Linked DNA regions of Homo sapiens: region 2 is linked to region 1. Evidence: fine-mapped expression QTL. Tissue or cell type: esophagus muscle. Region 1 holds a variant in brackets; the other region holds the start of a gene. All regions are shown on one strand. Distances are from middle to middle. Region 1 overlaps KCNT2 (potassium sodium-activated channel subfamily T member 2). Region 2 holds the start of KCNT2 (potassium sodium-activated channel subfamily T member 2).

What was found. PIP is the estimated chance that this variant, and not a neighbour inherited with it, causes the effect.
Region 2: KCNT2 starts here. The variant in region 1 is the best candidate, but not a certain one, in a credible set for the expression of KCNT2 in esophagus muscle (GTEx, PIP 0.68).

Annotation. Positions count from the first base shown.
Region 1 is chr1:196,418,356-196,421,276 of GRCh38, reverse strand. All of the region lies in intron 12 of KCNT2 (potassium sodium-activated channel subfamily T member 2), which reads left to right. Among named protein-coding and RNA genes, the nearest start is that of MIR4735, 160 kb to the left of the region's middle. The variant A/G (reference allele first, on the strand shown) is at 1,440.
Region 2 is chr1:196,606,719-196,609,639 of GRCh38, reverse strand. It overlaps KCNT2 (potassium sodium-activated channel subfamily T member 2), which reads left to right and starts at 1,200. Exons shown (of 28, transcript NM_198503.5): 1 at 1,200-1,425. The coding sequence starts at 1,331. RefSeq lists an enhancer at 349-865.

The DNA.
Region 1 (2,921 bases):
TTAGTTAATCAAATGCATTCTCTTTTTTTTCCTGACACTACTAAATTGGAAGAAATGAGTAAGAAGATTTATACCTATAGGGACAACAGATTTGGTAGATGAGACAATACTAATTTTATATTAATAATAATTTTGCAAGCTACAAAGCAGATAGATGAGTGTCAACAGTGAAGGAAGTTAAAATTTAAGTTGAGACAGGAAACAAATTAGAAGCAAGCTGCGTTTTGCAACCGAACCTCAACAGTCTCAGAAAATAGAGGTACCAGATGTCTCTGAATGTAGGGTTATATGTATGACTAAATACATGAATACTGGTTAGAAGTCTATAAGAAAAGTAGGTTCTTTGAACCCCTGTACATATCCATTGCTGGTTACTTTCCTAATCCTGGTAAAAGAGTTTGCTATTTGGAGAATTTGATCCAGGGATACTCTACTCAGAAACACCAGCTACAGTTAAGAGTCTAGGCACCATGCTAAAATTAAGGGAATTAAGAGTAATCATATCACTGAACGTGATATGATTTTCCCAAATGACTCTGAGAAGCATTACAGCCTGGTCCATATCTCTATTGACATTGACACAAGATTGGAGGAGTTTCCTCATGGGAAATGGTTCAACACAAGATAAAATGCATTATATCATTCAATCAAAAGTGTGTGTGCCTGTGTGTGTCTGTGTGTCTGTGTGTGCAGAGATATGAAACCTGGTGTTCCCCAGTGCAATATTAAACATTGATCACTCTAAAATGAAATCTATGTGAGAAAAGCTCTCTGCCTCCACTCAACTCCTAACCTCTTTTGAGTGCTTAACTCCTGCTTGTATTCAGACACCAGACAGCAGACATAGGGATTTGAGGACATTTCTAACAAGAACAAGAAGGAATAAGCAAACAAACAAACAAAAACCATACACAAAAAGAGAAACTCAGAGGAATCAAACAATACCATATAGTTCTGGAAATAGAAATCAATCTTAAAGTATATATTTAATAAATATTCCTAGTAACATGAGAATATGGTACATACATAAAATAAGAATAGTAGACTAGATCACAAAACAAAACAAGACACTCAGTGAACCTGAAAGAGCTCCTGGAAATTAAATCTAGCATAACAAATGAATAATTTAATAAAAAGCCTAGAAGGTAAACCTAAGAACATTGAAGAATGAAGAATAATAAAATGAACAATAAAACCAAATAGTGTAAAAGAAGAATTAAAAAGTTGAGAAAATTATGGTAGTTAGAGAGAAGCAATATCAATATAGTAGGAATTTAAGAAAGGGATTTTATAAAACACTAGGGTAGAATATTATGAAAGACATAATACGCCCAAATTTTCCACACAAAAATTGTCAAATTGAGAGGGCCCACTCATTATACAATAAGGACTAGAAAAGATCTGTGCTGGTCAGGGAGAAGGAAACAAAAGAAGAAGCC[A/G]AAGGAAAAAGGAAAAGGCATATGAGGAAGAGGAACAATAGGAGAAAAAGAAGAAAATATTCAAAACTAAGGGTGGAAAATTGGAATGTCTTCAGATGTCTCATCAGTAATGGCAGAAGACAGTGGGACAATGCTTTCAAAATTCTGAAGGGAAATATTTTTTCACTTAGAATTTTGTATCCTGGCAAAAGTTTGGTCTAGTAAGAAAGTAGAACCAACCCAAATGTCCTTGGAACCAACCCAAATGTCCAACAATGATAGACTGGATTAAGAAAATGTGGCACATATACACCATGGAATACTATGCAACCATAAAGAATGATGAGTTCATGTCCTTTGTAGGGACATGGATGCAGCTGGAAACCATCATTCTCAGCAAACTATCGCAAGGACAAAAAACCAAACACCGCATGTTCTTACTCATAGGTGAGAATTGAGCAATGAGAACACATGGACACAGGAAGGGGAACATCACATTCTGGGGACTGTTGTGGGGTGGGGGGAGGGGGGAGGGGGGAGGGATAGCATTAGGAGATATACCTAATGCTAAATGATGAGTTAATGGGTGCAGCACACCAGCATGGCACATGTATACATATGTAACTAACCTGCACATTGTGCACATGTACCCTAAAACTTAAAGTATAATAATAATAAAATAAATAAAAAAAATTAAAAATTAAAAAAAAGAAAGTAGAAAGAAGTTATTTATATAAACTAAAGATTTTAAAGAATGCACAACTCTCTGGAAGCTGCTGGAAGATGTGTTTACCAAAAACAAGGAGTGAGTGAAGGAGAAGTAGCCTCAGGGGATCCAGCACAGAGGAGAGAATGGAATGGACCCTAAACAGCAGGCTCTCAGTGCCAGCAGTCAGACCATTGTGAGGAGTGGAGAACTTCAGGAAGGCCACCTCTGGGGAGGAGACCAAGCTGGCGTTACCTGATGTGGTTGAGTGTATTGAGAAGAGCTTTCCACTTCTGGGCAGGGGTTTTGGATTGCATTTTGTCTCCCCTTTTATTTTCACTTGTTGGAGCCCTAACTCCTAGTTCTTCACAATTTTACTGTATTTGGATATAGGGCTTTTAAATAGGTAATTAAGTTAAAATGAAGCCATTAGGGTGGGCTCTAATCTAATATGGCTGATGTCCTTGTAAGAGGAGAATAAGATGATAGGATATACAGAGATACCAGGGGTGGGTGTGCATATAAAGTAACCAGGTAAAGAGGCCAATGTCACAGGCCTCAGAGGAAACCAACTCTGCTGGGACCTTGTCCTAGAAATTCCAGTTGCCAGAACTGTGAGAAAATAAATGTCTTCTGTTTAAGTCATCAAACCTGAGTTGTTTTTGTTGTTGTTGTTGTTGTTCTTGAGACTTGAGTTTTGCTTTTCTTGCCCCGGCTGGAGTTGAATGACACAATCTCAGCTCACTGCAACCTCCGCCTTCTGGGTACCATGCCTGGCTAATTATTTATTTGTTTAT
Region 2 (2,921 bases), 190 kb before region 1:
CTTGTTCCTCCACACAGAGCGGTTCTTAAGTAAGGGCAGGAGAAGCCATATGGTTATCCTCCGGCCCAGGCTGTCAGGTGGTTGGTATTCGGTCTGTATATACTCTGATGCAATCAGTTTTTGAAGGAAAGAACGGTAAGCGCAAATAGAACCATAGCTTGTGTAGCAGGGTTCATGTAAGCAGTGGTTCTTACTGAAAAACAGACCCTGTTCTCTCGGGCTCACTTCTTCCTCCGTGTGAACCACTAATAGGAGGGGACCGAAGGCTGAGGCCAGGCCACCTGGAAGCCCACAACGCTGCTAGTAGCAGCGACAGCAGTAACAGCAACTCACCACTGTAAAATCCTCAGTGCGTTTCCATGTGCTTTCCCTGTCATCTAAATGCTTCTCTTCAGCGGCCTAAGGTGGCCCTTCTTTTTCCCCGAGTTCAGGGAAACACCTCCCTTCTTTCAGAATGTGAGAAAAAAATGGGATTTTCCTGGGGCTGAGAGTGGGGATTCCCTTTCCAGAAACGTGCAATTTTTTCATCCCGCCCACCTGGACTGAAGGCAATCAAAGCGAGGGAGCTCGTGGCATAGTGGAACACTCCAAGCACCCTGGCCCCCCTCCTCCCAGAGAAGGGTCTGGAGCCCCGCAATCCGCTAATTAGCTCGCCCCCATTGGTTGTCCCCAAGGCACCCCCGTGCCGTCACTGTGCTATGCTAATGAGGGGGAGTCTCATTGGCTGGGCCTCCAGCTCCATCTCCACAGGGAGATTGCGGGGAGAGCCGGGTTGGCCGCGTCTGGGGCCGAAACCCACCGCCCCCGATTCCCGCCAGCTCAGGGCTGTGCCGGATGCAAGCCCGCCCGAGGGAACAGTAGCCGGGAGGCTGCCCTCTGGGAGGATCTGGCAACTGCCTTTAAGGAAAGTGCTTCACCATCAAGCGGCGCTCACTCCCACCCCTCTCCCCTCTTTCTAGGCACCGCGCGTCTTTTTCGGCGAAGTAACTTTTTATACCCGCCTCCCCCTAGTCCTGGGGACCAGAGGCGGTGCCGAGCCTGGGGGCGGTTCCTTGGCAGCGTTGATTCTTGTCAGAGCCAGACTTTTGCTCCTGGGTTGGGTTTGCATCATCCCCATTACACCCTCGGGAAAGAGGAGCCAGCCCCCTTTCAAGCCTTAGCTTCCGGCTCCAAGCGGACCCCCTCCCCCTCCCTGTCCCCTTCCCCTTCTCCCATCCCTCTCTCGGCCACAGCGTCTTGTTAGTCCTCTCCCTGTACTCCGCAATATTTTCTTTCTTTCTCCCTCCTCTCCTCCATTTGTTGTTTGATGTTTCCCACTCTTTGAGGAAGGATGGTTGATTTGGAGAGCGAAGTGCCCCCTCTGCCTCCCAGGTACAGGTTTCGAGATTTGCTGCTAGGGGACCAAGGATGGCAAAACGACGACAGGTGAGTGGTGTGGTGGAGGATTGTTCTGTAAATATTGCTGAAAAAGAGACGGAAATGGGAGGGCCGAAGTGGGGAAAGGAGGGAGAAAAGGAAAACGGAGCCAGAGAGGGAGACTAGGCTGGGGGAGGGAGTAAAAGAGACTCTGATTTGTCTCTCCATTTTGACTCTATATAACTGTTGCTATAGATAAGGAACTCTTTTTCTTTACACTTTTCTTATTCTTGCAAGGTATTTATTGCATTCATTTGGTGCTTATTCTTTTGTCTATCTGTGCTTTTCTAGGATGTGTATAAGGCTGGTATCAGAGGTACAATACACCCAAATGGTATGCAATATCATTTCCAGAAAATTTGCATTTTTTCCTTAGGTGTGGTTAATCAAACTCAAAATTGCATGCAAGTTGTTTGAAAAAGCACATTAGAAACTTAAAATCTCCTGAGTCTATTTACCTCCTCCTTGTCTGTGTTGTCTTGAGTAGGTATCTACTTGGCACTGGAAATTTTATGCTGTTTAAACATTTTGGAGTTTTAAGTAGACAATTGGTTTAAATATGTAACAGGTAGTTAGTGAAAATGACAACCTTTTTAATACAATATACTCACTTTGAACAGGTGACTCTGACCATTATGAATAATGATGTTTGTATAACATGATACAACCTTTTCATAACTAGTATATTTTTTTAACTGAAACAGAATATATGTCTCAAAATTAAAATTAAGTTTCAAAACTAGAATATTTATTGTTAGCAAAATATTGTTCATGTGTTTTATTTATAGCATTACTGCTTTGCACAAACTTCTGAAATTCCTCTGTCTATTTCTGTCTCAAGCACATTTTGTATTTCAGCGAATTTAGTATTTTCTGGAATAGTCATCCCATATATCACATGCCACATTTCTTTGTTTTAAAATAATACATGTATACTAACTAGGTTCTCAACTCAATTGAAATGTTTCATTGAAGTTTAGTTTAGTATTGATGTGCTATTTTAGTTATATAAAAGATCCATTATTGGTCCAATCCAAAATCCCCTCCTCATTCACCACTGACCAATACACTCTATTTCTTTTCTTCACCTTTTCAGCTCCCAATACCAACTCCTGTCTCTACACACTGAGGATTTTATCTTGAGCATCAATTATGGGCATCTTGTTTGGTCTCATATTAGTAATTTGAAAGGAGATGGATGTTTTGTAGAGGATATTTTGGTTCAATCTCTTTTTTAGGCAAAACCACACATATTGGCTAAAAATTTAAAGAAGTAATACCAATTTCTCAGTATTCTTGTAAAGTGTTTGGGTAAACTGAAGATAAAGAAAATAATTTTTAAGTGAATTTGTAATACAAATTGACATTTAGATAAACTGCATTAGCCTGGTTAAATGGCTTAGTAAGTGTAGCATGGTGTTCCTAGTGACTGAATGTATATTTAGTTCAGGACCTCAGGATCATTATATAGAATAGAAATCCTCTTTGTAGAAAGTGTGAGATAG